Homo sapiens: one gene and its partner. The protein of the gene in region 2 interacts with the protein of the main gene of each other region in a biochemical or structural test. Each region holds a gene or a part of one and is shown on either strand. Other genes may lie near its edges.

Region 1 (3,996 bases), on a different chromosome or scaffold from region 2:
GGAGTGCAGTGACGCGGTCTTGGCTCACTGCAACCTCTGCCTCCCGGGTTCAAGCGATTCTCCTGCCTCAGCCTCTTGTGTAGCTGGGACTACAGGCATGTGCCACCATGCCCGGCTATTTTTGTATTTTTTGTAGAGGTGGGACTTTGCCATGTTTGGTCAGGCTGGTCTTGAACTCCTGACCTCAAGTTATCCGCCTGCCTCAGCCTCCCAAAGTGCTGGGATTATAGGCGTGAGCTACCGCGCTCGGCCATTATATCTAGATTTTGAAACCTCATGTTTGTTTACCAGTAGTAACAGGTGTACAGACTATCAGGTGTCATTATGACAGATAGCACACTTGTTGCTTCTGCTGTCAAGCATGTATACATTTCTTTCTTTATAAAGACAGGTTCCTGAGTATGTAATGAAATGGGCCTGTGAAATCTGCAAACGACAAGGATAAACTACTAGACTTTTTTTTTTTAACTTGATTTATTGATGAAGACTAGTAAAAGCTTATGGGGGGGTGTTAAGTCTGTTCATTATCTGTTCTATTAATACTTAGGATACTTTATTTTGATATATTTGAATGCATAGAATAGATACCATTTAATGAATAAGACGCAGTTTAATTGAACAAGGTTGGAAACCTAATGTTTCTGTATTTCTCTTTTAAAGTTATTCCTTATTGATTTTGGTTTGGCCAAAAAGTACAGAGACAACAGGACAAGGCAACACATACCATACAGAGAAGATAAAAACCTCACTGGCACTGCCCGATATGCTAGCATCAATGCACATCTTGGTATTGAGCAGAGGTAAGTTCGAAAATGGAATGTGCTTATCATAGCCATAGCAGAAGCCATCAATGGGTTTTTGAAATATTTTAGTTTCTTACAATGTCTAAGGATGTTTCTTGGCTGAGGATTTGAAGGATGCTTATTAATCATTTTACCTGCTGCTTTAACCAGTGTAGAGAAGACCGTTAAATGAGGTCTTCTGGATTTTTTGTTGTTGTTGAAGGTTGTCTCTTGGGGGGAAAATACTGCGTGATAGAAAGTTAGAAGCATAAGTGCAATGTTGACGTTTCTTTTTGCAGCTGAAGATAGTACATATATTTTTAGAGCTATTTGGGGCTTTTTATACTTTAGTAATTCACGCTGAGTTTGGGAAGAATGCATTATTTATTTTTAAAAGGAAAATGTTATCAGTGTCCTAATAAACCAAAAGTGGGTTGATGGACCATCTCCTGTTATACTTCACTCAAATATATAAATTAATAGGATCTAGTTTAAAGTAAAAAAAGTAACAGTCTCTGCTCTCTTCCTATTTCTTCACATGAGTTCTAGAGTTTCGAGTTCCTTTCATCTTTTACAGTCACTTTTTGCTCCTTAAAACTAGCATAGAAGTAATAAGTAGAAAAAACAATGATATGCCTCCAGGTTAAAGAACCTCATACCAAGAATTTCAGGCTTAAGAAATATCCATGAATATCTGAATGATCTAGGTTAAACTGTAATGTCACTTTTTCTGTACGCCAAGGCATTACCTATCCTTAAATATATATATATCTAAATATATATTTGTATGTATGTGTATATAGATATGTATGCATGAATACATTCATATAGATGTTCAATTAGTTTTAAGTTGTAACTCCTTTTCAGTACTTCTGAAGTTTTTTTTTAATGAGTTTCTGCAAAACATAGAAATGTCATCCTGCTTGGTTCATTAAGCTCATTTAGAGGGTTGTTTAGCCAAATCGTTTCTGTTCTTTTAAAATTAAATTGTAAGACAGTTGTTTGTCAGATTTTGGATTCCATGGAAAAAGTTTTGTTTAGAGGTAGGTAACACATGAACTTTTTAAAATCACCTTAAATAAGTAGCTTCTTGCGTAAGACACCAAATAGTGTTCCCTCCTCATTTGGGAACATTTCTTCTGGGTACTTGACTTTCTTTCATATGTTTTTTCATAATAATAGTTCCAGTTTATAAAATTACGTTCTCTTTTCTAGTCGCCGAGATGACATGGAATCATTAGGATATGTTTTGATGTATTTTAATAGAACCAGCCTGCCATGGCAAGGGCTAAAGGTAAACCAGACTCACATTATCAGATTTTTCTCTCTCTTTTTTAGAATAAAAATATATATTGGAGAAGATAAGATTTAAGGTCCCTTCTAAGTCTGAGATTTTTCTGAGATATAAAGAATTAACCTTAATTTACTTTTTACCTTTTATCTGGGAAAATGAAACCAGATCATTTTAGTAAGAACTTAGTTCAGCTGAAGAACAGTGTCCTCTAAGAGACAGTAAGCTGGTACCCACTGGTAGCCACTAGCTCTATCTAGATGGAAGTGGGCATGGACTAAGAAAGGTGGAGACTTTCTCATTTTGATGTGTTGCCATTATGTTGAAAATGTATGTTTTTATGTACAGCAAGACCTGTTTATCCAGCAATACATGTCCTAACATTTTGTTTCTATTAGCTAGGAGTTTACTGTTACTTTTGTGAGTGTATGTTAATGATAAATCACCGTATCCTAATTTTGGGTGGGGGTGGGGGCATGGGGAATGGTCTTGCTCTGTTGCCCAAGCCGGAATGCCTGGCTCACTGCAGCCTGAACCTCCTGGGCTCAAGCAGTCCTCCTATCTCAGCCTCCTACCTGTAGCTGGGACTACAGGAACATGCCACCATGCCCAGCTAATTTTTAAATTATTTTTTGTAGAGACAGTGCCTCACTGTGTTGCCCAGACTGGTCTCAAACTCTTGGGCTCAAGTGATTCTCCTGCTTCAGCATCCCAAAGAACTGGGATTACAGGTGTGAGTCACCACTGTTGGTGTGTCCTAAATTTTAATGGCTATTTTGGTACCTTACCAGTTCTTTGAAGGAATACCTGTATTTATTGAGTGGCTGTGAGCTAGTTGTAGTGCTCAGTCCTTGGGTGGGTAGCTTTATCTAATATGAGTATTTTTAGTTTAGAAAAATATTGTGACTTATACAGTTAACTCCATTTATTAATGTCACTAATTGATGAACAAATTTTTTTGTATTAATCTGATGCCTTTGCCCTTGTGTTGAACATGGGTTAAGAAAATGCTTTTCAGGCTGAGCATGGTGGCTCATGCCTATAATCTTCAACACTTTGGGAGGCCCAGCCAGGCGGATCACTTGAGCCCAGGAGTTCAAGACCAGCCTGGTCAGTATGGCAAGACCTCACCTCTACTTTAAAAAAAAAAAATAGCAGGGTGTAGTGTCACATGCCTGTAGCCCCAATTACTCAGGAGGCTGAGCCGGGAGGATTGCTTTGAGCCCAGGAGTTCGAGGCTACAGCGAGCTATAATCGAGCCACTGCACTCCAGCCTGGGCAACCGAGGGAGACCTTGTCTCAAAAAAACAAACAAACAAACAAAAAAACAAAGAAAAGGAAAAAGGAAAGAAAATGCTTTTCAGCTGGGTATGATGATGCACACCTGTAGTCCCAGCTACTTGATAGGCTGAATCAGGAGGATTGCTTGAGGCCAGGAGTTGGAGGCCACAGGGAATTACTGCTGAGCCTGTGAATGGCTACTGCACTCCAGCCTGGGCAACATAGTGAGACCCCATCTCCTTAAAAAAATATATAGAAAGAAAGAAAATGCTTTTCAATTTTGGCCCCAGCCATTTTTACTTAAATCTAATATCCATATATTCCTATTAGACTCACCCTTTCCCTATAGCTAAAATTAAATTCTTAGAGAAGAAACTTACATCAGAAGTTAACAGTTTGGGAAAAATTTTTTTTAGATGTATTATACTTTGATTTTTTAAATTCTGGGTTAAAATTTCTCTTGAATCTCACAGGTATATGTTTATATGTCTAGTGCGTTAAACTACCATGGTTCTTCTCAGTAGCACTGAGTATATCTTTTTTATTTTATTCTTTTCCACAGGCTGCAACAAAGAAACAAAAATATGAAAAGATTAGTGAAAAGAAGATGTCCACGCCTGTTGAAGTTTTATGTAAGGTAAG
Region 2 (3,739 bases):
GTGAACACATGAATCATAAGAAAAGTGGTATAGAGAAAGCCTGAGTTTTTTTTTTTTTAATAGATCAAATCAGCCACAACACTATCTTAAGCCAAAGCCTAACGCAGAGCAAGGCCCTCTCTCTTCAATTCTATGGAGGCTAAGGTAAGGAAGCTGCAGAAGAAAAGTCTGAAGCTAGCAGTGGTTGATTCATGGAGTTTAAGGAAACAAGCTGTCTCCACAACAGACAAGCATAAGGTGAAGCAGCAACTGCTAAAGTAGAAACTACAGCAAGTTATCCAGAAGATCTAGCTAAGATCATTGATGAAGGTAGTTACACTAAAAACAAACTTTCAATGTAGATGAAAGTCTTATGTTGGAAGATGTCATCCAGGACTTTCATAGCTAGAGAAAAGTTGATGCTTGGCTTCAAACGAGAGACTGATTTCTTGTTAGGGGCCAATGCAATGCTAACTAATGTTCATTTATCATTCCAAAAATCCTAGGGTCCTTAAAATTAAACTAAATATAATGTTTTTGCTCTATAAAAGGAACCATAAAGCCTGGATGGTAGCACATCCGTTTATAGGAAGGTTTACTAAATATTTTAAGCCCACTGCGGAGATCTATTGCTCAGAAAAAGATTCCTTTCAAAATATTACTGCTCATTGACAAGTGCACCTGGTCACCCAAGAGCTCTATGGAGATGTATGAGATTAGTGTTTTTCTGCCTGCTAACACAACATCCATTCTGCAGCCATAGATCAAAGAATAACTTCAGCTTTCAAGTCTTATCATCCAAGAAATACATTTTATAAGGCAAAAGCTTTCATAGATAGTGATTCCTCTGATGGATCTGGGCAAAATAAAAACCTTCTGAAAAGGATTTGCTATTCTGGATGCCATTCATTCAGAATATTTGTGATTCATGGGAGTCAAAATATCAACATTAACAAGAGTTTGAAAGAAGTTAATTACAACTTTCATGACTTTGAGAAGTTCAAAACCTCAGTGGCGGCAGTAACTGCAGATGCGGTGAAAATAGCAAGAGAACTACAAGTGGAGCCTGAAGATGTGTCTGGATTGCTGCAATCTTATGATAAAACTTGAACAGATGATAAGTTGCTTCTTATGGGTGGGCAAGGAAAGTAGTTTCTTGACAATCTCAACATCTGTGAAAAGAAGGGGGGAAAGTCTTCTCCTGGTGAAGATGCTGTGAACATTGTTGAAAAGACAACAAAGGATTTAGAATATTCCATAAACTTAGTTGATGAAGCAGTGGCGGGGCTTTAGAAGATTAACTCCAATTGTGAAAGAAGTTCGGAAAGAAGTTCTACTGTGGGTATCAAATATTATCAAATAGCACTGCATGCCAGAGAAATCTCTTGTAAAAGGAAGAGTCAATTGATGAAGCAAACTTCACTACTGTCTTATTGTAAAAAATTGCCACGGCCACCCTAACCTTCAGCAACCACCATCCTGGTGAGTATCTATCAAAATGAGGCAAGACTGTCCATCAGCAAAAACATTACTACTTGCTGAAGGCTCTGATGGTTATTTAGCATTTTTTGGCAATAGTTTGAAAATTAAGGCATGTACATCTTTTTTAGGCACAATGTTATTGCAGTTAATAGACTACAGTATAGGGTAAATATGCCTTTTATATGCACTGGGAAACCAAAAAATTTGTGACTCACTTTATTTAAATATTTATGGTGGCTGGGAACCGAACCTGCAATATCTGAGGCATGCCTGTACCCACAGTTGTTACTAAATATATCTGCTATGGGCTCAACTGTGTCACCTCCAAATTCAGGTTGAAGCCTTAAATAGTATTTGGAGAGGAAGTCTTTAGGAGATAATTAGGTTTAGATGAGGTCATGAGGGTGAGGGCTTCATGACGGGATTAGTGCCCTTATAAAAAAGAGATGCCTCAGAGCTTGCTCTCCTCTCTGACCCTCCTCTGCTACCATGCAAGAACACAGTGAGAAGGCAGCCATCTGTAAGCCAGGAAAGGCACCCTCACCAGAAACCCAGTATACTGGTACCCTGATCTCAGATTCCCAGCCTCCAGAACTGTGAAAATATAAATTTCTGTTATTTAAGCCACCCAGTCTGTGTTTGTTATGGCAGCCTGAGCAGACTATGACAGTATCCAAACACATAAAAGCCATAACCTCTGGAGTCTGGATTATTGTCTTTAATTCAAATGACTTTAATGACTAATGAAACTGGACCAAAAAACAAAAAGACAACATAATTCATGTCAGCTGAAGGCAAAGGTTCTAAATGTGTTACGAAGTTATGCTCACAAATAGCTTTAAAAATTATATTTGTAACTGGATTTTGTTTTTGTATATTACTTTATATCTTGAATCTAGAATAGTGCCTGGCACATAGTGGACACTCAAAAAATATTTGATGAAGGAATGAATGAAGCTCTAGAGGCCTTAACAGATACAGAACAGATGGTTTGCTCCAGAGCCCAGTGCCATCCATCTAAAAAGTGAGGAGCCAGTTAAAGAGTAAAAATGAGAAAGAGCAAGAGGATGTAGTGACTATCTGAGTTGTCTCCAGACTTTGTGTACATGACTTTTCTCCTTCTAGCCCTCAGCTTCTACATCTGTAAAGTGGGATTCCTCAAGGATCTCTAGGGTCCTTTTCCCTTATTTCTGCATAAACAAATTAAAGCTTAGCAGCTAAAAACACAAACATCTGTTATCTCACAGTTTTTGTGGGTTAGGAATTCAGGTGTGGCTTGCTGAGAACCTCTGGATCAAGGTCTTTCATGGTGTTGCAACCAAGGTGCCTGTTGAGGATGCAGTCTCATATAATTGGATTCTAATATCCCTGATAAAATTTTAATTTTCAAGTTTACCATCATACTAAGACTTCTGTTCCAAGTCTTTTATAGGAGTGAGGCCCAAAATTAAAAAAAAAAAAAAACAAAAACAAATATTAACTTGACTCATCAATGCTATTAGTTATTAATTCCTTTGCTAAAAATATATACTTTTAACGACAGCTTCAAAAATGAAATTTAAGCCTTCCTCTCCACACCCATAAACTAATACTTTCAAGAGACCAGCATAATTTTATGGTTGTGAAAACAGTAATTCAGAGGTTAATGACCTGTTTGGAGCTAGCTATGGTGGAAGTTGTTGTAAGTGTAGAATGTTTCCTACCATATCTCACTGTAGGTAGTACCCAAATATCTAGGATTAATGATGTTTACTGTTTGAATTTGCAGTATTACTTCAACTTATACAATAGGTACATAGCTCAAAAGTGAATATAGCTCTGAGTTCTAGAAATTAAAAAGCTTTACCAAAGTCACTATTTAAGGGAGACCTACAGGAATTCTTTCTCAAATTAAAAAAAAATACTATAAGTAATTTTCCCATCTTTACTTTTTTTTTGTTTTTTAAAATAAGGGCAACTCTAAAATAATTCCTATTTGCTTTACATAATTCTTGGGAGACTGATAATTCACCACAATGTGATTACAAATAGATAATCCTTGGTGCTTCTATTAGGGAGTTCAAGAACTGAATGACTGGCTGGAGGTCGCGGTCTTTTTGGGGAAATGAGTTAAACAGGCATGATGGGATTAATTTGGATGAACTTATCAGACAATTTAAATATTGCCCACTTGATATAATGGAAAGATGGTTCTCACTTGAAAGAAGATTAAATGCTGTATTTAATAGAAATGACTCAAGGTTAGAAGAGAGTAGGTATGCATATGACTAGACATAAG

The links.
Region 1: of the proteins of USP15 (region 2) and CSNK1A1, one has a biochemical effect on the other in vitro, tested with the Homo sapiens proteins (one study listed by BioGRID).

What each region holds. Positions count from the first base shown.
Region 1 is NC_000005.10:149,509,874-149,513,869, reverse strand, and holds part of CSNK1A1 (casein kinase I isoform alpha), read left to right. Parts: intron 1-660; coding exon 661-800; intron 801-1,997; coding exon 1,998-2,076; intron 2,077-3,916; coding exon 3,917-3,991; intron 3,992-3,996.
Region 2 is NC_000012.12:62,410,036-62,413,774, reverse strand, and holds part of USP15 (ubiquitin carboxyl-terminal hydrolase 15), read right to left. Parts: 3' UTR 1-3,739. UniProt on the Homo sapiens protein: Hydrolase that removes conjugated ubiquitin from target proteins and regulates various pathways such as the TGF-beta receptor signaling, NF-kappa-B and RNF41/NRDP1-PRKN pathways.